Linked DNA regions of Homo sapiens. The protein of the gene in region 4 purifies or fractionates together with the protein of the main gene of each other region. This does not show direct contact. Each region holds a gene or a part of one and is shown on either strand. Other genes may lie near its edges. The genes, in order: ANAPC16, NEK2, MIER1, C16orf87, CDC27, CDC26 and ANAPC2.

Region 1 (4,105 bases), on a different chromosome or scaffold from region 4:
CAATGAGGGATATTTAATACACTTAACCATCCAGAAAAAAAAAAGCCCCTAAGTACTTTTAGAGGTGCTAGAAATTCATACCAAACAATCAGTTCCAGTTGTCTGTTAAAGCACAGTTAAAATAACAACTTAACCAATATGGTTCTCAGACCAACATACTGCTGAAGGGGGGAATCCAATTTCCACAGGCCACTGCCCAACAAAATGCACATCGCTCACTGCGAAGCCAAGCTTCTGGTCACATCACTTAATGAATCAATAATTTAGGAAACAAAGGTTCCTTACAGGCTAGCTGAGGTTAAATTCAACCAATATTCCTACCACGTACAGCTTAGATAGTCTTGAAGCCCAAAATACTTAAAAGTTCCAAAGAAAACAAGTTGATCCTTACTAAATACACTAATGTTCAAGCCAACGTGGGCGCGGTGGCTCACGTCTGTAATCCCAGCACTTTAGGAGGCCGAGGCGGATCATCTGAGGCCAGGAGTTCGAGACCAGCCAGGCCAACATGATGAAACCCCGTCTCTACTGAAAATACAGAAAGTAGCCGGGTGTGGTGGCGGGCGCCTGTAGTCCCAACTACTGGGAAAGCTGAGGCACGAGAATGGCTTAAGCCTGAGAGGCGGAGGTTGCAGTGAGCTGAGATCGCGCCACTGCACTCCAGCCTGGGCGACAGAGCGAGACTTCGTCTCAAAAAAATAAATAAAATAATAATTGATGAGTTGTGCGCTTACAGAACCAAGAAGAGGTTTCGTGAGAAATAACAACACAGAAGGTAAACCGACATGGATGGAGGAAAAGGGCACATCATTAGCAATACTCGATGACATCACAACCCAGTGGCCTATTCCCCGAGGCCTCTAAAGTTCTCAACGAAAAAAGACTTTCAAAGGAAAAGCTTAAAAAAAAAATGTTCCCCACAAAAACAGACTAAGATGAAAGTCGGGCCCTCAGACCACGAGCTCCGGAAGAACAGGCAGTTGTCGCGGAGACAGCAAATGCAGCATCTACCTGTCCTACATGGCCCTGCGCTACGAGACTGCTCGGAAGGAAAGAGAGGAATAACCAACTTAACCCTGCTTCGAGGTGGTTTGGAGAGGAAGAGGAAAGCTGTGTCTTTCTGCAATATCGTGAGGGAAGCCGAGGCCCTGAATCATCAAAGAGAAGGAGAAGAGGACTAGGCGGCTGCAGGTAAACCAAGGTAGGGCGAGGAGGAGGACCCGGAATTCCTCTACGCGAGCGCGTTCTCTGCTCCCCTCCTCGCGTCTCCGCCCCGGCCACGCCCACCACGGCACGGGCGCGCGCACGCCGCCTTCGCCGCTGGCTCCGTCTGTTGGGGGGCGAACACGCCGCGGTCCTCGTCGTGGTGAGCGCAGCCACTCAGGCTGGTCCTGGGGGTGGGGCTGTAGGGGAAAGTGCTAAAGCCGCTGAGGTAAGAGGCCGAGGGGTCGAGGGCCCTCGGGAGCTTGGTGAAAAGGGAGTTAACCCCCAGGATCCTACCTGCAGGGACTAGAAAAATGGAGAAGGTAGGAGGAGAAACAGGAGACTGCTGCAGCAGACGTGCGATAGGAAATTTCCCCAGGCCGGGTTTGACCGAGTGCGCATGCGGGCCGAGGGCTGGCGCCTGCGCAGTGGGACAGCGCCGATGGCGTAGTTTCCTGGGGACCCAGCTGGGTGGGAAAAGTGGCTAGGAGTTAGCTTGGGAGCCGCTGGTGTTCTGAGCGCTCCCCTCTCTGGCCACTTTTTCTCCACGCCCACCCCCGCCCCGTTCCCGCCCCCCCCCCCCCCCGTTACAGCTGCGGCATCTATTTGGTTTGGGTTGTAATCCAGCTGTTTTGAAGTGGAACGATTTGTTGATGATGGAATTTAATGATTACTTGTAATAATTTGCCTTTGTACTAGGGTAGGAACTTTTAAGGAATTACTCTTTTTAAGAAAATAGGCATATATCTGTTAGAAAGGAAAGGAATTTATATTCATAAATATATGAATGCGAGGTCATCCCTGCCGTACATGAAGTAAATGTTTAAGCATCTTAGCTCGGACACAGCAATCTGTGTCCACAAAGCATCGTTACTCTCCTGTGAGGATCTCCACTGTCAGCCCCAACTTACCTGACAGGGCCAAGTCCCAGGATACTTCATCATCAGTATTTGTTTGACAAAATTTTACTGGGCACCTCCGGTGGGCCTGGCAAACTGGTTGAAGATAGAGTTGTGCGAATAGATCTGCACAATGAGAAAGAAAAAAATCCATAATGATCCAATACTCATGACACAGCGCTTCTCTATCTCCTGCATGACCTTTGCTGAGCTGCTCGCCCTGCGTTCTGTCGTTTGTTCATCATTCATTCATCCGAAATGCTCGGGACTGGAAGCACAGTGGAAACACTGCCCCAGGTTCTGTGCTCGGCATTGAGGGTAGAAAGACTTTTCGAAGGTGGCAGGGTGTTTCTTAAGATCATTGAACCTTAAAATGAAAGTGTAGGCCGGGCGCGGTGGCTCACGTCTGTAATCCTAGCACTTTGGGAGGCCGAGGCGGGCGGATCACGAGGTCAGGAGATCGAGACCATCCTGGCTAACACGGTGAAACCCCGTCTCTCCTAAAAAATACAAAAAATTAGCCGGGTGTGGTGGCGGGCGCCTGTAGTCCCAGCTACTCGGGAGGCTGAGGCGGGAGAATGGCGTGAACCCAGGAGGCAGAGCTTGCAGTGAGCCGAGATCGCGCCACTGCACTTCAGCCTGGGTGACAGCGAGAATCCGTCTCAAAAAAAAAAAAAAAAGGAAAGTGTAAAGTGCTTAATAGAAGGCACTGGCCCTCCTCCTGAACAGATTCTTTCTCCTGTGGGAGCTTGCTGACTCTGTTAGATGGAGAGAATTAATACTTTTCCCATGAGGTTTTTTCATAGTAAGTATGAAAACCTGGGATCTGCATAGGAAAAAAGACTCAGTAGTAACTCTCCGTTAATGACTTTGAATAGCCAAGATTTATGAAGTGTTTACTAAGCCTGTAACTGTTCCAAGTGTTTTACGTGTATTAACTAATCTTTGTCACACCTGTGTGAGGTAGGTGCCGTTATTACAGGTTGAGTATCCTTAATCCAGAAATCCAAAATCCTCCAAAATTTAAAACTTTTTGAGCACTGACAGGATGGTCAAAGGAAATGCTAATTGGAGCATTTTGAATTTTAGATTTTCGGATTTGAGAGGCTTAATCATTAAGTATAATGCAAATATCCCAAAACCTGAAAAAAAAATCCGAAATCCAGAATACTTCCAAGTCCCAAGCATTTCGGATGAAGGGTACTCAACCTGTTTCCCATTTTGCAGATAAGACAACTAAGGAACAAAAAGATCCCGGAGGGGGAGGCGGAGGTTGCAGTGAGCCAAGATCGTGCCATTGCACTCTAGCCTGGGCAACAAGAGTGAAACTCTGTCTCAAAAAAAAAAAAAAAAAAAAATATATATATATATATATATATATATATATATATATATATATATATATATATATGCCGGAGGTTGCAATTTTTTACATTTTTGGCATCAGACCTTGGCGATGACCTTGAGCAGTAGGGTATAAATAACTCCCACATGCTTAGCGTTCCAGTAATGGAACACTAGGCATAAATGGGTTAAATGATGTGTCCACAGTCATGCAGCAAGTAAGTAGCAAAACCAGAACTCAGAGAGGCTTCATAATCTTACCCATTATGCTGCTTTACGTTGCACATGACAAATAACATACCAACAAGCCATTGCTTCAAAATGTCACAGCAGATAAGCTAAAATTGTCTCTACACCTCAGTTTTATTTTTTCATATATAAAATGGGGAAGTTGGGTTAGATGACCTTTAAGGAATCTGTGGTTTCTGTGAAATATTTAATTCACTCAGCAAACATTTACTGAAGTGAACAACTACTTCCTTACTATAGGCCAGGTGTTATGTTTGGTTCTGGTGATCAGTTAATTCCTGCCCTGAGAGCAGTTACCATCTAGGGTTTATTAGTTTTGCTTTACTCTCATTTACCACTTGCTGGTAGCATTCAAAATTTAACCTAAATCTTTAGAGCTAGAAATTACTTAGGTATATCCTTCCACCTCA
Region 2 (3,977 bases), on a different chromosome or scaffold from region 4:
ATGCATCATAGTCATTCCATAAAAGCTTGAACTGAATATGCTTTAATTTGCATGAATGCTCAAAAAATTGAACCCAGTGAGAGATGACAAACGGCGCAAACCTTAGACTAGGAATCTGTCTTCATCATACTTACATTAATGCACATAACTCATGCAGCAAACAAAAACTGATATAGACTTTATTGGTCTGGTGGTCCATGTGGAAAAATATAACAGTATTTTCAATTCTTGGCTACTAGATATTACTAAACAAACAGAAAACTCAATTTCCCTGCTTCAGAATGCTTAACATTAAAAGATGTTTTGGCTGGGCATGGTGGCTCACGCCTGTAATCCCAACACTTTGGGAGACTGAGGTGAGCAGATCGCTTGAGGTCAGGAGTTCGAGACCAGCCTGGTCAACATGATGAAACCCTGTCTCTACTAAACATACAAAAATTAGCCAGGCATAGTGACATGCACCTGTAGTCCCAGCTACTCTACTTAGGAGGCTGATGCAGGAGAATCCTTTGAACCTGGGAGGCAGAGATTGCAGTGAGCCCAGATCGCACCACTGCACTCCAGCCTGGGCAACAGAGCGAGACTCTGTCTCAAAAACAAACAAACAAGAAAACAAAAATAAAAGATGTTTTAAAAAGTAGCTAAATTCTGAAATACTTACAGGAGACATGTAATAAGGTGTGCCAACAAATGTTTTTGCAAAACTCGTGTCATGGTTTAATATTCTAGCTAGCCCAAAGTCTCCAAGCTTGACGTTTTGCTTGCCATCCAGGAAAACATTGGCTGGTTTCAGATCCCGATGCAATACGGTATGACCACCATCACTTCGTCTGTGGCATTCCTTCAGGGCCAGAGTCAACTGAGTCATCACTCGAAGAACAAACTCTTCATCTAAGTATTGCCTAAAACCAAAGCAGTTATACAGCATATAACTTCTAAAAAAATCATTGCCAAGATGGGATGATATAAATTATCCAGTGTACAAATAGGGAATTTATTTATTTATTTATTTATATTTTTTGAGACAGGGTCTTACTCTGTCACCCAGGCTGGAATGCAGTGGCACGATCATGGCTCACTGCAGCCTCGACCTCCCAGGCTCAAGCAATCCTCTTGCCTTAGCCTCCCAAGTAGCTTGGACTACAGGCACATGTCACTATACCTGGCTAATTTTTGTAGAAACAGGGTCCCACTATGTTGCCCAGGCTGGTCTTGAAATCCTGGGCTCAAGTGATCCTCCCGCATCGGCCTCCCAAAGTGTTGGGATTACAGGTGTGAGCCACCACACTCAGCCTATAAATTGTTATTTTGATATAAAATATGGGTGTTGATTCACCAGGAATTTTCTAAAGTACTGTGGACCTACCAAACAAATACAAATACACTCTTCCATATTACTGATCCTAAAACAAGATGCTTAAAATAAATGAAACTAGACCAATTTCAGCTTACATTTTTAAAAGATTATGCTTACCTTTCCTTGGTTCCCTTTGTAATTACACTAGCCAGATCCCCTCCTTCACAATATTCCATTACAATGTACAGTGTTGTATTGGTCCGGTCAATAATCCGATCATAGTAACGAACGATGTTTGGATGTTTCAGTTCACGAAGCAAATTCACTTCAGAAACAAGCATCTGTTTCTCAGCTTCTGTCATGGAGCCATAGTCAAGTTCTTTCCAAACTAATATCTGAAATAAGAATTTCCAAGGTATGAATGAACTCATTATGCTCAAAAACAAAGAATGAAAGTTCCAAGATTTAACAAATTACCTCCCTTTTAATTATATCCTACAATCAAGGTCATTATCTAATTTAGTTCAATGAACTTAAGGAGCTGTGAGTTTACTTCCATAATCTTCCTCCAGTTCTAAGCAGTAAATGTATGTTGTGGGGAGACAAACGGGAATGAGGCACATGAGGACTCCCCCAACCCCTACCCTCAGTTGGTTAGTGGGAAGTTGGCTAAAAGGTACTATAGTCAAAATTGGGGTGAAGGTGGTCAAAGTCCCTGCCCCATTCCACCCCAGTCGTGTTTTCCCAGGATGAGACACCTTGGTAAAGATCCCTCCATCAGCAGCCAGGCAGTTTCCTGTCCAATGTTACTTTCTGTAAAAGTTCTACCTATATACATTGGGAAATATGAATCCAATAATCCTAATAATGGATATTTTGAGGGAGTCTGACTGCAGATACAAAGCTTCGGGTTCTGGTAGTCCTGCCCCTTTCTTGTGCCTGAGAGGGCCACTCTTAGAGCTCTAAAAACAGCTCAGGAATTAGTTACCTGTCACCAATGGAAGGTCCTTAGCAAGCCAAAGCAGGAGAAAGAGAGAAATGGGGAGAGAAACGGGAAAAGATGGAAATACATATATCAAAAGAAGCGGTCTCCCATCCTTTAAGCCACCCAGGACAGGCTGTCAGATGCAGACCCAGGAAAGACGGTTTAGTCTTCCGGGCACCCATTTCCTCAGCCCTGTCGGTTCCCTTCGGTGGCGCAGGGCGCTCGCCCCGAGGCGACGAAACCTAAGCAGGGGCAGGCGCAGGGTAGGTCCCACGCTCACCTTGCCATCACTCTTCCTCCGGATCTTCTGGCAGCGGCCGTAGGAGCCTGTGCCAATGGTGTACAACACTTCATAGTCCTCAGCCCGGGAAGGCATGGCCGGCCAGTCGCCAGAGTCGCGCTGCCTCACGCAGGTTGCGCCGCCAAGTGCGGAGCTCCAGGGACCAGGAACTCCAGGGACCTGGATGGAGAAGCCCCCGAGCAGCACTGACCCGCCACCCCTGCCTTGGGCCCCGTTTAACCGTCGCGGGCCCTGATCTCGCAGTCTATTGGCAGGCGGTGGGCCGCTTCGCCTCTCTCATTGGCTAAGAAGAACACAACAATACCCTAGGCATTTTGGGAAAAGTGTCACTAGGCAACCGCGTCGGCGTCTGCTTTTAACCTGTGGGAGAACCCGGCGAGCTAAGCCAAACGGAGGGCGGGAGAGAGGAAGCGGCAGCTGGCGCCTCTCGGCAACTCTAACCCTCTGATAGAGATCGCCAAGGTAACCGAGATCTAAGGTCCTCCCCTCAGGCTTCTTTGCACACCGCTTCCACCAGATGCCTTCTGACCTTTGCACTCTGGCCCCTCACACTACCTACTCTCCCCGGCACACGCATTCCTCGCTCAGGTTCCAGTACCCTGAACCTGGGTGGGGTCACGTTGAGGATATGCTGAGAGCTGAATACAAATTAGAAATACAGACTCCCGGGTGGGCGCGGTGACTCACGCTCGCCCGTAACCCTAGCACTTTGGGAAGCCGAGGTGGGTGGGTCGCTTGAGCCCAGGAGTTCAGACCAGCCTGGGCAACAGGGCAAACCTCGTCTCTACTGAAAATACGAAAATTAGGCCGGGCGCTGTGGCTCACGCCTATAATCCTAGCACTTTGGGAGGCCGAGGCGGGCGGATTGCTCGAGGCCAAGAGTTCAAGACCAGCCTGGCCAACATGGCGAAACCCCGTCTCTACTAAAAATGAAAAAAAAAAAAAAAAAAGTAACAGAGCATGGGGTTGCAGGCCTGTAATCCCAGCTTCTTGGGAGGCTGAGGCATGAGGAATTGCTTGAACCTGGGAGGCAGAGGTTACAGTGAGCCGTGCGCCACTGCACTCCAGCCTGGGCGACAGAGTGACACCCAGTCTCCAAAAAAAAAAAAAAAAGGAGAAATACTGTCGCTCTCCTACCAAGTACTTTACACGTCTTGTCCCGTTTATGTGTGCCAAATACACAATTAACCCTATCGACAATACTTCATTGAACACAGATTCTCTTTTACGCACCCACACACCAACGTTCTCAGCTTACCCAGCCAAATGAACAGCCCCATGTTTACCAGGGAAGGAGGACTTAGAGGCCTCCATCCAGGGCTTGTTAGAGGAATATGTAAATTACCAGAAAGCTAATAATTTGGAAATGCATGAACAGGCCAGTTTTCTTTAAA
Region 3 (3,500 bases), on a different chromosome or scaffold from region 4:
TTTTAAGTATTGCCGTCATCTACTTAGTTATGTAGACTCTAAGTCAGAGATTCTCACAGCAATGGAGATGGGGATAGAAGCCTGGAAAGAGGGGTCCTACTTTAGGGTGAAAGATGGTTACCGTGCCAAGGGCTGGCTCACCATCCCTCTCCTCCAATAAAATTAAGTTACTTAACTTTGTTATTACTCTCAGGAATTCTGGGGTATAAAAAGGTTAAGAATGTACTGAAATTAAAATTAGCAATTTACTACAGTATTAATAATTCAGAAGTAAAATGATATCATAGAAAATAAGGACTGGGAACAGTGGCACACGCCTATAATCCCAGCACAAGACAGGAGGATCACTTAAGGCCAGAAGCTCGAGACCAGTCTGATCAACATATCGAGACCCTGTCTCCACAAAAAAAAAAAAAAGCCGGGCATGATGGCACATGCCTATAGTCCCAGCTACTTGAGAGGCTCTGAGGGAAGGATTGATCACCTGAGCCCAGGAGTTTGAGGTTGTAGTGAGCTATGATTTGCGCCACTGCACTCCAGCCTGGGCAACAGAGAGAGACCCTGTCTCAAAAAAAAAAAAAAAAGAAAGAAAGAAAAAGAAAATAAGCACTAGGAATCTAGGAATACAGAAGGCTGGGTTCCAGTCTAAACTGTGCCATAGATGAATTGCACGACCTAGGACAAACTACGTAAACTCTCTGCTCACTTTCATTTTCTCTATGATCAAAAGATTTAGATTTCTTCAAGACCTAACTTTACTTTTATTATAAATTGCTCTAGAAACCTAACACTACTAAGGAGTATGCAGCTAAATGCATGGGATATGTTTAAATTTATTTTTTTAAATCTAGGACTGTTAAAAAAATCTCAATTTGCAAAAACAATTTTTTGGGGTGCTACTTCATGAATTTCATACCTACATAATAAGTTATTGTTCTAAGCCACAGAATAAGACAAACAGAACAAGCCCCAAGCAATGACTGGTACTTGAACAATTTAATCACTGCAATGAATTTTGAATGAACATCAAGCCAGGCAGGCATTTCTAGATAGCTGATTACTTTTCATAAAGACATGCTTAAGCTTCAATGGCAGTGTTTTATTTCTGAATTATTTAGAAAACTGGTTAGTCTCACTTACCAGAATTATCTTAAAGTAATTCACTTGTTTCTCCCACCAAACCTTTCCCACCTATTAAAGTACCCTAACTCTTAACTGCCAATGAATTAAGATTTTTAGGACTCTCACGCACTGGTGATCTTGACTACTTTTAAAATCTTAATAGCTCTGAAGTATAAACATGAAAAAAAATTCATTATTAGTGTCGAGAATTATTTGAAGCTTAAATTCACTGCAGTGAAACACATTTTGCTTAGAGTAGAAATTAATGTTTTCATAAGTAACATTTAACATAATCCTTCGTTAAAAAAATCCAAATACACTCAAAAAATACTAAGCAAGGAGTCCATTTTAAAGAGAAATGGATAGGTGTGAAAGTGAATAAACAGATTATATACCCTCTTTGAAAGTACTAAAATACTTAAATAGAAAGAAGCAAATCCATTAATTTTCTCTTTATATCACAGAAATGTGGCCTAGGTGAAAAGACAGGTCTTGAATTGTCCATGGATTTTTTTCCTTGAGAAGAAAGTCCCTTACGTGTTTACAAACGCTAAAATACAAGACAAATTGTTCGTTCCCAAAGGTCCCTAGTACATTCCTTATAAAACCCAAAGGATTAACTATTTCTTCCTCTCATTTTTTCTCTCATTTTCCTCTTATTTTTGCAGTTAGTAAAACTGCAACTATCCTGTAATTTCCTTCAAGTGTGACTAGGAGAGCGTCCTTTTAGAAGGTTGGTAAATAATTTTAAGGGATAATAAGCAATGAGAAATATTGCCAAAAAGTATTAAGCAAGGGAGCATATGCTATTTATTCTAAGTACATTAAATACGGCTTTAATGTTATCACAACTGAAGAACCAATATATACTTCCTATTATGGACTAAGATAATCAGATCAAATATAAAAAATTAGTATATCCTATTCTCATCTAAAGCACTTTCTATTCAAGAATTAAATATTTTTCTGGAAAAACATGGTCAGGGTCATGCTCTTGTAGGAAGCATCAATTTTTTTTTTTAAAAGCCCAGAAGCATAATACCTACATTTTTCTCTGGAGACATACTTCTTCAATAACCTGTTTTCCCCCTCAGATTTAACAAATAGATATATACTGTTGCTTTGCACTTACTGTTACTTCACAAGCTATCCTTAAATCCTCAGATTTATTTGATCAAAAGCACAATAATTCAGCATCTGGATTATTTAATCACATGCTTTTATATTGGCTTCATAAAGAATGAATCTACTGAGAGCTCAAAGTAAAAGCCAACCAAGCATTTCTCCTTTGTCTAATTGTTTAAAACCACTGGTCTCAAAAATCGTCATAATTATTCAAGTATTGAGGCCAGGAAAACTATAAATCAATTGTACTTTTCACTTCTTCACCTGTCTTAGATTTTTTTGTAGGACACAGATCACGAAAGTTCCTCTAACTCTTCCCCAATTCACTATACATGAAACTATCTACAAGTAACTGAAGAATATAGAAGATAAATTGTTTAAAGATACCAGGTCATTAAATAAACACTAAAAACCAAATAAAAACAAAATTCCAGTTCTTTCCTTCTTGCAGTTGAACAATCCATGCGTTCCCACAAAACATTCCATTCTCCAACTGATAAAATATTTAAGAAAACTAAAACATACATTAGAAAATATTAGGAAATGATTAGTGAATCAAAATATTTTTTTCCTTTATCTTACAATAACGCAACCATCTTTAATTTTTAAAACAAAAAAGTTAACATAATTTCTTTTACATATTAGATTTTTTAGTTCCCTCGGCAATAAAATTTATTTTTTAAAAACACAGAAATTTTAAATTTAAGTTTTTTAACTTAAATTTCTCTGTATAAGCTATTTTCCTTCAGTAATATCTTGCCTTAGTATATGACTACACACCTCAAAGCTCAAACCATCCTGAGCAACACCATGAAAGAAGAAACCACATTACCTATGTAGCACATTGCTGCTTACCCGATATTCACTGAAAGGGGTCCACTGAAGACACTAACTGACAAAATGTATAAATCCAGCTACACACAACTCCTTAAACATGAAGGAAACAAACACTTAAGAATAAGAACCTCACCAGGACTAAAATCCAGGTACCGATTCTCAGTCTACTGGAACAAACGCAGTCACATTTTGGGGAAACAGAAAGTACTACGTTCTCCAATTCATGTGCCTGGAAATACAATTCTTTAACCACCAAGAGCAAAAGAAATGAAAATAAATCTAAGATCTAAATTTAGTTGTAAATTAGAGATATTGAATGTTTTAAAAAGAATACTCGCAGCAAACAGTCCTGTCTGCTACAGCAAAATCTCACCCTCCTTCCTAAATCTGTTTTGGGGTGCCTGTGAAACCATGAA
Region 4 (4,123 bases):
TTTTTTAAAAATGAAGGCAAAAACAGAAGCATACACAAAAGATACCAGAAAACTGACAAGAATCTTGAGCACTGATGCACACAAAATGGCTCAGTAATTTTGAGTGATTGATGGATATGAAACCCCTTGAAAATGAAAAGGACTGTGGTTTAAGATGTTTTAGAATGATATGTTCAATAGAAGCCTGCAAAGGAGATGTTACAAAGCAGTTGAAAATCTAGCTTTTTCTTCTTTGCTGATCTCTGTACCCATTTTTCAAACTTACACACCCACATAAGTAAATCTAGTCAACTGGGAAATCTCAAATTTAAAGATTTTACATTTATGTTTATAAACTATACCTAAATTCGAATTTAATTTTTTTTAGGCAACTTAGAATCATAGCAGTATTCTAATGTTTAGAAAATGGCTTTCTGGATTATAATCATATTCTGGCTTATAACTAAAAGAAGCTAGTACTTTTAAATAATGAGAAAGCTAAAATTCATCCATTATTTTTTCACATCAGGTTCATATCACCAAAAGTTTTAATTAGTCCTTATGTATGTTACATTCACTTAAGTATTTGGAATAAAGGACAAAACAAACCAACTCATTAAATTATGTACTAGTTTGCTCTGGGTGGAATTATGCACCCCTCGACATCCAAATTCATATATTGAAGCCTTAACCGCAATGTGATGGTATTTGGAGATGGGCCATTTGAGAGAGAATTAGGTTTAAATTAAGTCATGAGGGTGGGGCCCTCATGATGTGATTAGGGACCTTTTAAGAAAAGGGAGAGAGCTTGACCCTCTTTCTGCCATGTGAGGACACCAAGAAGACAGCCATCTGCAAGCCAAGAAGAGAGCCCTCACCAGAACATAATCATGCTTTTGTTATGGCAGCCAAAGCTGGGTAAGCTGATTTTATATGAAAGAATAAATATGGGGGAGGGGGTGTATAACAAAATGAATGTGATCTTTCCAAATAAAACGCTGATCTTGTTTTGTTGAACAGTTTTTCAGAAACTCCTATAAGTTTATTATCCTTTGCTCTTTTATATAAAAATAGCCATAAAAAGTGGCTATTTTTCCCAAAAGGTTGCTTTATGCCAATTAGAACAAAGTCAGGATTTGCAAATACTTGTGCCTTACAGAAATTGGAATGCATAACGCATACCATGTAAACCTTACACTTCTACACAATTAACTGGAATAATTGGAAATGATTTAAACACTGAAATAATCTCCCGCAAAGAGTCATATTGCAAAGTCCAGTTTTGTCAAAATTTAACAAATTTAGTTCAGTAGTAAGAATGAAAGTAACTCTTTGGAAAACATGACTAAACTGTTTTTATACTGCATACTGGTATAGCTCCTACACTGTATTTCTTGCACAACCTTTTTCTGATAAGCATTTTTACTACAGCCCATAAAGGATACTTAATAAAACATGTAACATGTTTTCTGTTAAAAGATTTGAAAAACCTACAAGAATTCTCCTTGAAAAATGCACTAAAATCAGCTTATTAAAAAGTCTCCAGCCATTTCAAATTACTCTTGATTTAAAAAAAAAAAAAGGCGGTGGGGGGAGGGGAGGAGAGAAAGGTAGTCATTTTGAAAAAATCCACTCAGTGGAAAAGGAAAAAACACACCCAGATCTACATGTTGGTAACAAACGAGGGCCTTACGAATGGTTTTAACTGAAGTAGTTTTAACTCATTAGATGTTAAGGCTTAAAGGAATGTCTATTATTCCAGTAAAGAATTGAGACACGCTTCAACACAGCGATCACTGAAATGAGATGTTTTAAATTACAACTATTACACCATGAACTCAATGTAGAAAGGAATCGTTTCAAATTCAAGAAACGAGATAGAGAGATAGAGAGATAGAGAGAGACAGACAGAGAGAGAGAGAGAGAGAGAGAGAGAGAGAGAGAGAGAGACACACAGAGACATTCAGACAGACAGGGATACAGATCTGGAAGCAGACAGGCCAAATTTGTAACAGTGGATACTGCGAGGGGTGGGGAAGTTAGGAGCGCCCAAAAAGGAGGAAGGGCTTAAACAGGGGCTTTATTCAATCATGACCCATTAAAAACGATGTAAAGGCAGGATTCGCGATTGCACAGCAAAAATATAATAAATAGATGAGGAAGGGGAAAAAATCTCCAAATTCGCCGAAACTCAAAATCATTACACGCGGCCCCCTTTGTCCCACTCAGGCGCCCGCCCCGGTCGCGGAGGGGCCGTTTTGGGGAAGCCCCGCACCCGTCGGAACCGGGAACAAAGCCGCCCCGGCCGCAGGAGGGGTTCTCGGAGCTAGGGCCTGGCCTCGGAGGCGGGCGTGCGGCACACTCTCGCCGGGGCTGCGGCCCGCAGGCTCCCACCGCTGTCACCGCCGCCGGCGAGGAGAGTCTGGGGCTCCAGACAGCCGCCCGGTGAGCCCACCAAAGGCGCGCTCCTCCAGTGGCCGGGACACAGCAAGAAGGGGCTTGGCCGTCTGGCCGCCGCCAGGTGGACGCTGGCGGGCCACGGCCCCGGGCTTTTCCCGGGAAACCCCTCGGTGCAGCCCGACCGGCCCCGGATCCCCGCCGCCGCCGGCGGGCCCCAGGATCTGCCCACCGCTCGGCCTCCGGGAGCCCGGCGAGGCCCCCCTCCACAGACAACGGCCGCCAAGCCACTGCCGCCCGCCCGCGCGCCCGGCCCCCGGCACCCACCTGTTGGTCGCACTCGGGGCATGATTTGGTGGCCATCTTCACTTTCTTGGCTCGAGTTGCAGACATGCTCCTCTCCCTTAGCGGCGGCAGCAGCGACGGCTCGGGCTCCTCCCCTCACACTTCGGCAGCCCGGCCTCCGCCCGCCCAGTCCCCGCGGGCCTCAAACAAGCCTCTGGCGGGTGCGCGCGCGCGCGTGCGCGAGCTCGCGCGGGACCTGGGCGCCAAGGGGGCGGGGCGGAGCGTCGGCCGGCGGCTCCTGGGGACCGCGACACGCGCTCCCACGGCGGCTCGCGACCCACAGCCCGCCCGCGAGCTCGCCCAGAGTATCACGAGACGAGGGGAGACCTCCCCCCCCTCCGCCAGACCGCCCCGGCGCGGCAGTGGCCACGCCTCCTCTCGGCCTGGCCGACTACGAGGGGGCAAGGCCTGGGCGGGACTCGGCAGTAACGGGCGTCGAGTTCGACCAACGAATGCATAGGTAGGGCGGGCCGTAGTGCTGGGCACGCCCCATCCCCACAGAGACCGTGGGAGCGAAGGCTGGGGAATGAATGGTGAAGGGCGTAGCGTGGATCCTGGCATTTAATAAACTTAAGTAGATGTTACCAAGGCTAATCATTGAGAAATTATGATAGACATTTTATGAGACCACTGGACCCAGCAGCAGAGTGAAAATTCATTTATTTATTCAATATATAATTGCCTAAGTCCCACTGTCAGGAAAATTTGAATAAAATGCAGTGTCAGCCTTCAAGGAGCAGCCTAGCTGTGTAAACCAGTGCTACTCACTATCAAGATGAGGGATCAGATGTTTTTCTTTTTCCAATCTGTCCGTGACTGATACTTACTAAATTAACATTAAAATTAAATTATTCGAGGCTGGGCGCAATGGCTCACGCCTGTAATCCCAGCACTTTGGGAAGCCGAGGAGGGCGGATCTCTTGAGCCCAGGAGTTCCAGACCACCCTGGGCAACATAGCGAGACCCCCATCTCTACAAAAAGTAAAAGATTTTTAAAAATTAGCTGAGCGTGGTGGCCCATGCCTGGAGTCCTAGCTAGTAGAGAGGCTGAGGTGGGAGGATCGCTTGAGCCTATGAGATTGAGGCTTCAGTGAGCCGAGATTGTGGCCACTGCACTCCAGCCTGGGCGACAGAGCGAGACTCCGTCTCAAAAAAAAGAAAAAGAAAGAAAAAGTGAAATTTAAAAACAACTATGCAAAACGTAAGCTTACTTTTAAATATTTAATTTGACAGACCCAAAGTTATACTTAATAAACAATCAGAACAAACATAACAGAAAGAAAATTTACAAACTGTACACTTGGCTCAGAGAAAATTTACCAATATGCATTTATTACAGAGACTGGCTATTCCACTGATAACTTTTTATTCAACAATTGTTAACTAAAGCAAAGTTATGAGT
Region 5 (3,500 bases), on a different chromosome or scaffold from region 4:
AAGAATTTAATTGCAATATCATGTTCCCGTTGCAGACTGAAACAGTTCCCTGCAGCACACCAGGCCTTAAAAAAATGGGAACAAAAACCAAACAGAATTAAAATTTTACTTTTTCTAAAACCAAATCTATGACTAAAATCAAGCCTCAACTTAGAACAGAAAGACAAAAATGGAGGAGCTTCAGTAGATACTCAATTCTAATTATTCACAGATTCCATATTTGTGAATTTGTCTGATTGCTAAAATTTATTTGTAAAACCAAAATCAATACTTGCAGTGCTTTCATAGTCATCAAAAGGTATGTTCTCATTTGAGGTTGAATAATGTGACTCTACCTTCTTGTTTTAGCTCTCATGCAGAGATGACCAGGGACAGAAACTCTGTGGGCTAGTTTAGTGTAGTGCAAGAAGCTTTGGCTCTGGGGACAGTTGGACAGAATTTGAATCCCACTGCTGGCACTTTTAAGTAGGATGGCTTCAGGCAAGTCACCTCTGAACCTCATTCTCTCTCTTTTTTTTTTTTTGAGATCTGGTCTTGTTCTGTTGTCCGGGCTGGAGGGCAGTGGTGTGATCTTGGCTCAATGCAACCTCCGCCACCTAGGCTCAAGTGATCCTCCTGTCTCAGCCTCCCGAGCAGCTGGGACCACAGATGCCAGCCACCATACCTGGCTAATTTTTGTATTTTTTGTGGAGAAGGGTTTTGCCATGTTGCCGAGGCTGGTCTTGGAACTCCTGAGCTCAAGGAATCCGCCTGCCTCAGCCTCCCGAAGTGCTGGGATTATAGGTGTGAGCCACCACACCCAGCAGCATTCTCTCTTTTGTAAAGAAAATAGGATCTACCAGGATGAGTTATTTTTAGGATTCAAGATTATAATCCACAATCTATCTCTGTTTCAAACTCTCCATCACTCCCAGGAACATTGGTTCAGTAGCACTAATTCAGTGTTCATGTTGACTACAGAATTACCGCAAATAATGGGAGTTGACTGTGTTTAATTCTAAGCTTAGATATGTTACAAAAGTATCATTAAATATTTTTGAGATGCAATGAAATACAATCTTACAAGATTAGAGCATGTACATTAATTGCACCTATGTCTTACAATGACAATACTAATTTATTTTAATTTAAAATTATTAATTTTTTCAATCTATGTAACTTCTGCTCAACGAACCCTAATCTTGGTGACAACAGCAAATTTAACGTAGTCAAATCTCGATAAATCCTGAATGAAATAGCTGCTTTGTGATTTTTCTATTTGTGAATCTGCACCACACATTCTAGGACTTTCTCTTCCTCTCTGAGTCCCTGACTAGAGAGAGAGGAAAAAAAAGAAATAAGCGTGGGTGACACTAAATAGTGTTTGAATTGCTTGGTTCATCTCTATCTGTTGAGGGTGATCAAAAAGGTAACTATATAAGCAAAGTATTTTGGTTAACATACCTCTGGCGAATTTTTATCCATGTCTGTTAAGTCTTTTGACAGAACTGAAAGAGCAACATCTTTTTGAAGATGCCAAAGTGTTGTAGAGTAGATCTCCATGCCTTCAACTCTATAATTCTCAATCCTTCTAACCTCTGAGAATATTCTTTCAGCCTGAAATAAAAAAAACTAGTAAGAGAAAACAAGTTGATACAATTTATATATATACACAGGGAAAGCCCTGGTCATTATCTTCACAGGATCTAAATGCTGCCTTGTATTATGGTTTTTATGTGAATGAGTATTAACACAAGGACAAATTCAGCAATCTACTATGGCAGGTCAAATAGTGATGTAACCATATTGACAGTCAACCTAGTATTTATATACAAGCCATGGTAAGAACATGAACTCTGAAAAGGAAATTTGAGTTTCTACCAAAAAGACCGAAGAGAAATCTATACAAAGCTACAATTCAAAAGAAAAGTCAATATTTCCTTCTCAAAAACCTCATTTCCAAGTTTTAATAATGGCATTACAGAATAACTCTTTTTTTTTTTTTTTTTTGAGATGGAGTCTCACTCTGTCGCCCAGGCTGGAGTGCAGTGGCGCAATCTCGGCTCACTGCAAGCTCCGCCTCCCGAGTTCACGCCCTTCTCCTGCCTCAGCCTCCCAAGCAGCTGGGACTACAGGCGCCTGCCACCACACCTGGCTAATTTTTTGTATTTTTTAGTAGAGACAGGGTTTCACCATGTTAGCCAGGATGGTCTCGATCTCCTGACCTTGTGATCCACCCGCCTCGGCCTCCCAAAGTGCTGGGATTACAGGCATGAGCCACCACACCTGGCCAGAATAACTCTTTTAGGAAAGATGATGGAAGAATGATTTCTGTAACATAAAATCTATTTTTGAACAATTTTTACCGAGAGGTTGTGCCAGAAAATTTAGAGGGAAGAAACAGGTTAAGCTGGCTATCAATCCTATGGTTATAAATCCTATTGAGCCCTGAATATACACACCAATATTGTGTCTGCTAGGAATCATAGGCCCTACCTATTAATTATCCTTTCCTTTGCAGCACTCTCTTGACTTCAGGGTCTCTCCTCAGCTGCCTCATCAATTTTTTTCCTCATCACATTCACAGCTCCCAGAACTGTGTTTCTCTCCCTCTAAAGTTTGAGGATTTAGGTTATATAAAATCAGTTTCCTAGTTTATCAATTTACCAAGTTCAAAATTCTCAGCTGCCAGAAAAGGTCTAGGTAATAAAAAAAAAAAGAAAGGAAAAGAAATTTTCACAGTTTAGTTTATAATAAGGAATATCTGGACTATTCTTAATGAAATGAGTATGACAGAAAATAAGAGCATTTTAAAACTGAGTGCTTAATTCCAAGAAGTGGTCATATGATATATAGGAATAGCTTAACGATTTGTAACTTCCTTGCAATCTCTTAAAAGTTATAAAGGTAAGTGTGCAGCCTTGACCTGCAGGGCTCAAGTGATCCTTCCACTTCAGCCTCCCAAGTAGCTGGGACCACAGGTGAGTGCCACCACACCCAGCTAATTTTTTCATTTTTTTGTAGAGACAGGGTCTCACCACATTGGCCAGGTTGGTCTCCAACTCCTGAGCTCAAGTGATCCCCCTTCCTTGGCCTCCCAAAGTGCTGGTATTATAGGCATGAGCCACCACACCTGGCCAAGTTTTTCATTCAGGCATGGTAACAAGATAAAAGACCTACCAGCCAAATATAGGTAGGTACCTTTTGGTTTCAAAGTTTTCAGAATCTGTTGCTTCCTCTGAAAAATGATTATGGCATAGACAAAAAGAAAAATGGGAAAAAAACTCAGAAATTAAGTTGAAACAGAGGCTTTCTTTAATTAAATATTTGGGTCACCACTATAACTAGGGGAAACAATAAAATTCATTTATGTTAAAGTAGCTGTGAAACAATAAATTAGAAATAATTTTTTAAATGGCTTTTCCGAACACAGCTCTTGCCTGTCTGTGTATATGCTACATACCAGTAAAGGACCATAATCGAAACATGGGTTTTGTAGCAATGAATAAGACTTTCTGTCT
Region 6 (3,040 bases), on a different chromosome or scaffold from region 4:
CTGGTTTCACTTTAGGGCATGACTGTCCCTGCTTCCTAAGTTACTCTAAAACAAGGTAAAACCCACTAGATAACTGTCTTTAGTGGAAAGACTAACTCAATAGTGAGCTGACTGTAGAGTCAAAGTTCAGCATGCTAGCATTTTATGAGATTCGTTACAACTGAAGTTTAAGCCATACTTTAAAGCTCATGCTTAATAATATATGAGTTTTTAGAAAGCAAAAATTACGATACTTAGAGAACACTAAAGTCTCTTGGGATGAAGCAGGGGGAAAGAAATCTAAGTTATTAGTCTTAATATGAAGCATATACAATACATAATAAAGCTGTTGGTGAATATATGCAAAACGTACTGTCCTCTGCCATATAGTACAAGATACCTACTAGGACAGCAAATGAAAATAGACTTGCATTGAGCCCTCCTTTGGACCTGGTATTGCAGGGAACAGATGCAGAGAGAAATATACTAATCCCTGACTTCAAGGAGCTTATGGCCCAGTGAGGGAAAACAAAAGCAAACAGACAATTACAACAGAGAGTGACCGTGCCTATGAGAGAGGTTAGCACAGGAGGATAAGGTTGAGCCTAACCCAGCTGGGGGCTGGAAGGAGTAAGAGTTAGCCTGGCAAAGAAAAAGAAAGGGCTTTTCTGGCAAAGGGAACACTGTGTATAGGCACTGAGATTAAAGATAACCCAGCAGTGAAAGTGGAGAGATAAGCAAGGACCAGCTCACAAGGAGCTCATATGCCATGCTAGGGAATTTGGAATTTATTCTGTAGACCACTGAAGAATTTAAGTCTTATTAATGGACATCTAATACCATGTAGCAAGGCCACAGTTAAAAATACATATGGGGCCCCTACTATGAACTAGATGGTAAGAACTCAATGGTGAAGCAAACAGACATGATTTCTGCAATCAACGTCCCTAATGTAAATGATTTTACAATAAAAAAAATTGTAAATTATAATAAATGCTATGAAAAAAATATGGTGCTTTGTGAGAGCCTACAGAGATGGAGGCAGCATGGACGGGAATGACACATGAAACTTGGATACGGTCAAAAGTGGCCTCTTAAATTGAAGAGTTGACATTTGAATGAAGACTGGAAGAAAGGGAGCACTCCAGGCAGGGGGAAATAATATGTGGAAAGTCCATGGAAGTGATAAATAGATTGGCATGTTCAAGGAAATGAAAGAGAGCCAATGTGGCTAGGGTATAGAGAGCAAGGCAAAGAATGGCACAAAATGAATCTGGAGAGGCACTAGAACATACAAAATCTTGTAGGCCATGGTGAAGAATTCAGATTTTGTTATAAGTGCAGAAAACTACTGAGGAGTTTTAAACGGGAATGACAGGATTTGAAAATTTCTGAAGATCATTCTTGATACTGGATGCAGAATGCACTGAAAGAGACAAAAATGGAAGTAGAAGACCAGTTAGGATGCCACTACAATTATACAGGGAAAGACGGTTACTTAGCGCAGGACTGTAACAGTGGAGATGAAAAGGTATGGGTGGATTCCAGACATATTCTGAAGGTAGAATCAAAGGGTCTACAGACAGATCGAATATAAAGCGTAAGAGAAAGGGAGGACTCAGGAATGACTGCTAGGTTTCTGGCCTGAGGAACTGAATCAATACTGAGATGGGAAACACTGGGGAAGAATGGAAGGGACGACTGGTTCAAGGGAGAAATCAAGAGTTTTTCTCTCTTCTTTTTTTAACATGTTAAGTGTAGTAGGCTGAAAAATGGCCCCCAAAGCTAGCAGGTCCTAATCCTGGAACCTATAAATGCCTTATATGGGAAAAGGGCCTTTGCAGGTGTGACTAAATTAAGGATCTTGAGAAGGGGGGATTATCCTGGGTTAGTCAGGTGGGCCCTAAACACAATCACACATATCATAAGAAGGAGGCAGAGGAAGTTTTCACAGACAGAAAAGAAGACAATATGACTCTGGAGGCAGAGACTGGAGTGATACAGTCATGAGTCAAGGAATGCCAGCAGCCACCAGAAGCTAGAAGAGCCAAGGAATGGATTCTTCCCTAGATCCTCCATAGGGAATGTGGCCCTCCTGACACCTAAATTTCAGCCCAGCAATACTAATTTTTGGCCTATAAAACTGTGAAATAATAAATTTCTGTTGTCTTAAGCGATGAAGTTTGTGGTACTTTGTTACAGCAGCCACAGGAGACATACATGAAGTTTGAGATGCCTGTAAAGCATCCAAACAGAGATTTCAAATAAGCTGTTGGCTTAAGAGTCTGCAGTTCAGAAGTTAAAGTTATTGTGTATGTATGTGTGTGTATATACATATTTATGTATGACAGAGAGTCTCACTGTTGCCCAGTGTGGAGTACAGTGGAGCCATCATAGCACACTGTAACCTCAAACTCCTGGGCTCAAGCAATCCTCCCGCCTCCGCCTCCTGAGTAGCTCAGGCATGCGCCACCCTGCCCAACATAGAGACAAGGTCTCACTATGTTGCCCAGGCTGGTCTCAAACTCCTGGCCAGAAAATGCTGGCATTACAGATGTAAGCCACTGTGCCCACACAAGAATTATTATCTTAAATATTCCTTAAGCTTTGAAAGTTGTATTCATGGCTGGGTGCAGTGGCTCACGCGTGTAATCCCAGCACTTTGGGAGGCTGAGGTGGATGGATCACTTGAGGTCAGGAGTTGAGACTAGCCTGGCCCCAACATGGCAAAACCCCAACTCTACTAAAAATAAAAAAATGAGCTGGGCGTGCTGGCATGAACCTGTGGTCCCAGCACGCGGGAGGCTGAGGCAGAGGAGGCAGAGGTTGCAGTGGGCCAAGATCATGCCACTGTACTCCAGCCTGTGTGACAGAGCGAGACTCCATCTCAAAAAAACACAAAGTTGTATTCATACCTCCAGGTCCTTTCGAATGTTCTCAAACTCTTCAATGTCATCAAGCTTTAGCTCTAGGCGTGTTGGTTTCCGTCTCAGCATACTGAAGTCAACACTAAGGGCCAAACCCAGTGAACTATTAGCTGTTAAAAATGAAAGAGAGGAGG
Region 7 (4,277 bases), on a different chromosome or scaffold from region 4:
TGCCCAGTCCCTCTGGCCACCAGGGCACAGCCTTCGGCAGAGCCTCACTGCCAGAGACGAGGCGTGTTGGCCTAGAGGTCATTCGCCAGCCTCAGCAATTCCAACCGAACCCGCACAACGTCCCAACCTCGCCCGAGACCTCCTGGCCGAGCGTGTGGAGGTGGGCACAGGCTGAGCAGAGGGTGACCCCAGGGCTCCTTCTAAAGGCCAGAGGCGCAGGAATGGAGCTGGAGGTCTGGCGGGTAGCAAGCACTAAGCCCTAGGACGTGGCTGCCTGAGCCGTGGCCCGGGCGTGACGTGGACCTTCACGTGCCGCTCCCTGAGCACCCTGGGTCGGGGGCGGCCCGGGATTCTCTCAGGAGGCTACATTCCCAGTGCAGATGTGTAGGCCTAGGTGGCCCCTCACCTGCTGCTGAGGAGCAGGCCCTGCCAGGCTGAGAGAGAGGCCCAGGCTAGAGGAGGATCCTGGGGGGCCCCACAAAGCCACCAGGACAGAAAAGGATGATCTGACTTGCTTTAATCTGCACACTGCGGGGGTGGGGGTGGGCATGCTCCTCAGCAGTGCATTCTGGGACACGGGCGGGCGGGGGCTGGCACGGGAGGACGAGAGCACCTGCAGGGCAGCGCCTGGCGGGCGGGCGGGCGGGCGGGCGATGTGTCAGCTGCAGTTCTTGGGCAGGCGGTAGACGCCGGCCGAGTAGACGAGCTGCTGGTCCCGCACCTTCTTCTGCAGGTAGCCCTGCAGCTCCTGCAGGTCAATCTCGGCCAGTGCAGGCCCAGTCACCACAAACATGCGGAGCATGTTGTAGATACGATCCAGTGAGAGGCTCTCCAGGTTGGTCAGCATGGCCTGGATGTACGTCCAGAAGAGCTGCGGACACAGGCCAGCCCCCGTCAGGCACCTGCAGGCCTCGCCCCCGCCCCCTGGCCCCCCGTGGGGCCTGCACGCGCACCAGCAGCTCCTCCTCCTTCTGGTCGGCCTGGGAGGCCATGCCGGAGTCGCTCTCGTCGTCACTGTCAATGAGCACCATGTTGTCCCGGTCCTGAGGCCGCTCCTCCTCAATGACAGAGAAGGTGCCGGGGGGCTCCTCACGCAGCACACCCTGCTGCAGCCACACGGACATCCGCCGCCGCAGCAGCGCCACGGGCATCTTCACCGCCTTGCTCAGTTCCTCCAGGGTCCAGCTGGCTGCGTGCAGAGTCACCGGGACGCTGGGCAGCCTGGGCACGGGCTGCACCTCCCCTGCCTCCCGTCAGCCGAGAGGTCGGGGGGCTCCCGGGCCACCCTGCCTTGCCCGTGGGAAAGGGAAGGGTGCCGCCTGCTGGCGCAGCTGCCCCAAACCACACCCTCACTGGGGAACAGCCCCTCACCCACAGCTGGGCCGTGTGGCCGGGGCAGGCCAGCTAGGGGCTGGTGGGCTCACCTTGGTCCTGAAAATACAGCAAGATCACCGCCTGTACTGGGGTGACCGCCACAGACAGCGTGCGGTCGGCCAGCTCCACGTCCATGGTCACCAGGCCCAGGGTGTGCTTCCAACTGAGGGTCCGCATGGCCTAAGGAGGGCCAGGGTCAGCACGGGCAGCTCGGCTGCAGGGCGCTCAGGCCCGTGGGCTCTGCCACCTGGTACCAGTGAGAAAGGGGCTCCCAGAGCCACCTGCCCCACCCCACCCTGGCAGGCAGGTGAGCAGCGAGAGCACAGGACTGGGTGGGGTCCCCACCTGCTCAGCCACCATGGAAGGGCAATGGGGCCAGCATCATAAGGTGTGTCCCGAAAAGGCTACAGGGGCCTCCTGACCCCCAGTGCTTGGAAATGTGGCCATATTTGCAAACAGGGTTGATGCAGATGTAACTGAGGTGCATCCTAACCCAACTGACTGGGGTCCTTCTAAGAAAAGGAAAGATAGGAAGACACAGGCAGGCGGGGAGGGGGCCACACGAAGACAGAGACCACCTGGAGCAACGCGGCCACAAGCCAAGAAACACCAAGGGCTGTGGCAAACACCAGAAGCTGGGGGGCAACGGAGGTCTCTAAGAGGGTTCAGAGGGAACGGGGCTGCCAGTACTTTCATCTTGGACTTCCAGCCTCCAAAACTAAGACAATCTATTTCTGTTTTTTAAGCCACCCAGTTTGTGACACTTTGTTACAGCAGCCACAGTAAACGAACAGATTTTGGTACCAGGAAGGGCCAGGAGGGGTGCTGCCAAAACCTAACACCAAGAACTGTGGCAGCAGCTTTGGAAGTGGGTGATGGGGAGAGGCTGGAAGAACTGGTGAGGCCTGCACGACTGCTGGTAGAAAGGCATGAAGACAAGCCTGGAAATGGCTGGAAGAGGAGAGCTGCCGCCGTCTTGGAGAATGCACACAGCATCACAGACTGGATGTCGGCAGCAATGCCGACCCAACAGGTGCTTCCAGTGAGGTCTCAGATGGAAATGACCGTGCTACTGGGAACCGGAGGAGGCAGCAGAGAGCTTGGCTGGCTGCTGCTCTGCTGTTGGGTGCGAAGTGGGACCTGCAGCTGATGAGCCTGGACATCAAGCTGAGATTTCCAAGCAGTGTGGAAGGTGCCACCTGGCTTCTCCTTGCTACTTATAGCAGAATGCAAGAGGGAAACAATCAGTGAGGCAGGGACCATTAAGCAAAAAGGCACCAGCCCTTGGGGATCTGAAAAATACTCTATCCAGGCAGCTCTGAGACGTGGCCAAGGGTGTGGCTGGACCAGGGTTTGCTAGACATGAGGTGTGACCTGTGTATCCAACTAACCATCTCAGCAGCAGACAGGGACAGGTGGGGCCTCCGGGAAAGGGCTGCGGACCCGCCTGTCTGAAGGCTTCGGCACTGGTGAGCTGCATAAGCCAACAAGGTGTGAGAATTTTACACCCGCAGAAGTGCTGCCAGGCTGGAGTGAAAGGAAGGCAGGCTCCAAGAGCAGAGCCGCCGAGGCCAAGGCTGACGGAGCAGGGGGCCAAAGAGGATTCGCAGGCCTGGAAGTCAAGTGGAATTTCGGCTGCTGGGTTTGGACTCGCTGTCCTTTTTCCTCCCAGTTTTCCCTTTTGGGGTGGGAATGTGTATGCTTGTCTTACGGCTGAACTTTTGAAACAGATCATCTGTTGGCTGATTTCACGGCGTCCCAGCTGGAGGAATGGCGCGCACTCCAGCCTCACCTGTACCTTGTTTAGATCTATTTACGTAGAGGAATGGCGCACACTCCAGCCTCACCTGGACCTCGTTAAGATGCATTTACAGGCTGAGATGTGTGTGGAACTTTGTGTGGATGGTAGTTAGATGAGATTTTGGACTTGGAGTTGATGCTGAAATGGTGAAGACTTTTGGGGACACTGGGGCTGTCACTTGCACGTGGGAGGGGCCCACCATGGGGCAAATTGTCATGCACTGAATTGTGCCCCTCGAAAAATGACACATGAACCCCTAACTCCCGGTGCCTCTGATGAGATCTTATTTGGAAATACGGTCATTAAAGATATAATTAAGATGACGTCACCCTGGAATAGAGAGAGTGTTCTTCTAAGAGGGAGATAGGAACAGAGACACGGGGGAACATCACGGGCGACGCGGCAGAGACCAGAGCGAGGCACCCACAGGCCCCGGAGCTCCTGGAGCCCCCAGAAGCTGGAAGAGGGGAGGAAGCAGCCTCCCCTAGAGCCTTCGGAGGGCCCTGCTGACCCTGACTTTAGACTTCTGACTTCTGTAAAATGATATGTTTCTTTTAAGCCCGCTGGTTTGTGGTACTTTGTTCTGGTAGCACTGGGGCACTGACACACCTGCTCTGTGGGCCAAGGGCTCCTGAGTCCTTCCAGGATCCGGCAGCTTCTAATGGAAACAAACCCCTCTTTATGGACAGAAAATGGAAGTGGAGTCAGTGGCTTGCTAGGTCCTAGTTCTGGCTCCAAGGCCATGACCTCCACAAACGCCGCCACTGGTCAGCCTGCCGCAGGACACATGCAAGGGCTCAGGGGTGACGCTGTGGGCTGCATGGCCAGCCACGTGTCCAACAAGGTCGCTCGGCCAGGAGCTCTGCTGGTGGGACCTCTCAGCACAGCCCCGGGGCCTCCCTGAGCCACTCCTGTGTCCCACTGAAGTTAAGACAAAGGGCACTAGAGTGTGGCTGTCCCAGCACATCAGGCCTGAGCAACAGGAAGTGGCTGAGTCATGCCTGGGACCCAAGGCAGGACCCTGGAGGGAGGCCATTGGGGCCTTGCCTGGAAGCAACGCTGGAGAGCCTGAGGCAGCCAGAGGGGCAGGGGGAAAGGGACC

Evidence for each region.
Region 1: the proteins of C16orf87 (region 4) and ANAPC16 purify together in Homo sapiens (affinity purification with mass spectrometry; 2 studies listed by BioGRID and IntAct, with this or other methods). This does not show direct contact.
Region 2: the proteins of C16orf87 (region 4) and NEK2 purify together in Homo sapiens (affinity purification with mass spectrometry; one large-scale study listed by BioGRID and IntAct). This does not show direct contact.
Region 3: the proteins of C16orf87 (region 4) and MIER1 purify together in Homo sapiens (co-immunoprecipitation; 3 studies listed by BioGRID and IntAct, with this or other methods). This does not show direct contact.
Region 5: the proteins of C16orf87 (region 4) and CDC27 purify together in Homo sapiens (co-immunoprecipitation; 3 studies listed by BioGRID and IntAct, with this or other methods). This does not show direct contact.
Region 6: the proteins of C16orf87 (region 4) and CDC26 purify together in Homo sapiens (co-immunoprecipitation; 2 studies listed by BioGRID and IntAct, with this or other methods). This does not show direct contact.
Region 7: the proteins of C16orf87 (region 4) and ANAPC2 purify together in Homo sapiens (co-immunoprecipitation; 3 studies listed by BioGRID and IntAct, with this or other methods). This does not show direct contact.

The regions. Positions count from the first base shown.
Region 1 is NC_000010.11:72,214,707-72,218,811, forward strand, and holds the start of ANAPC16 (anaphase-promoting complex subunit 16), read left to right. Parts: upstream 1-1,305; 5' UTR 1,306-1,432; exon of another isoform or gene 1,433-1,570; intron 1,571-2,114; coding exon of another isoform or gene 2,115-2,147; exon of another isoform or gene 2,148-2,428; intron 2,429-4,105. UniProt on the Homo sapiens protein: Component of the anaphase promoting complex/cyclosome (APC/C), a cell cycle-regulated E3 ubiquitin ligase that controls progression through mitosis and the G1 phase of the cell cycle.
Region 2 is NC_000001.11:211,672,822-211,676,798, forward strand, and holds the start of NEK2 (serine/threonine-protein kinase Nek2), read right to left. Parts: upstream 2,801-3,977; 5' UTR 2,659-2,800; coding exon 2,563-2,658; intron 1,693-2,562; coding exon 1,475-1,692; intron 903-1,474; coding exon 662-902; intron 1-661. UniProt on the Homo sapiens protein: Protein kinase which is involved in the control of centrosome separation and bipolar spindle formation in mitotic cells and chromatin condensation in meiotic cells.
Region 3 is NC_000001.11:66,931,490-66,934,989, reverse strand, and holds part of MIER1 (mesoderm induction early response protein 1), read right to left. Parts: intron 1-3,500. UniProt on the Homo sapiens protein: Transcriptional repressor regulating the expression of a number of genes including SP1 target genes. Probably functions through recruitment of HDAC1 a histone deacetylase involved in chromatin silencing.
Region 4 is NC_000016.10:46,828,381-46,832,503, forward strand, and holds the start of C16orf87 (UPF0547 protein C16orf87), read right to left. Parts: upstream 2,801-4,123; 5' UTR 2,770-2,800; coding exon 2,704-2,769; intron 2,669-2,703; exon of another isoform or gene 2,255-2,668; intron 1-2,254.
Region 5 is NC_000017.11:47,137,296-47,140,795, forward strand, and holds part of CDC27 (cell division cycle protein 27 homolog), read right to left. Parts: intron 1,597-3,500; coding exon 1,444-1,596; intron 66-1,443; coding exon 1-65. UniProt on the Homo sapiens protein: Component of the anaphase promoting complex/cyclosome (APC/C), a cell cycle-regulated E3 ubiquitin ligase that controls progression through mitosis and the G1 phase of the cell cycle.
Region 6 is NC_000009.12:113,269,533-113,272,572, forward strand, and holds part of CDC26 (anaphase-promoting complex subunit CDC26), read right to left. Parts: intron 3,017-3,040; 5' UTR 2,976-3,016; coding exon 2,895-2,975; intron 1-2,894. UniProt on the Homo sapiens protein: Component of the anaphase promoting complex/cyclosome (APC/C), a cell cycle-regulated E3 ubiquitin ligase that controls progression through mitosis and the G1 phase of the cell cycle.
Region 7 is NC_000009.12:137,174,284-137,178,560, forward strand, and holds the end of ANAPC2 (anaphase-promoting complex subunit 2), read right to left. Parts: intron 3,834-4,277; coding exon of another isoform or gene 3,785-3,833; intron 3,499-3,784; exon of another isoform or gene 1,555-3,498; coding exon 1,425-1,554; exon of another isoform or gene 1,233-1,424; coding exon of another isoform or gene 1,190-1,232; coding exon 954-1,189; exon of another isoform or gene 872-953; coding exon 659-871; 3' UTR 501-658; downstream 1-500. UniProt on the Homo sapiens protein: Together with the RING-H2 protein ANAPC11, constitutes the catalytic component of the anaphase promoting complex/cyclosome (APC/C), a cell cycle-regulated E3 ubiquitin ligase that controls progression through mitosis and the G1 phase of the cell cycle.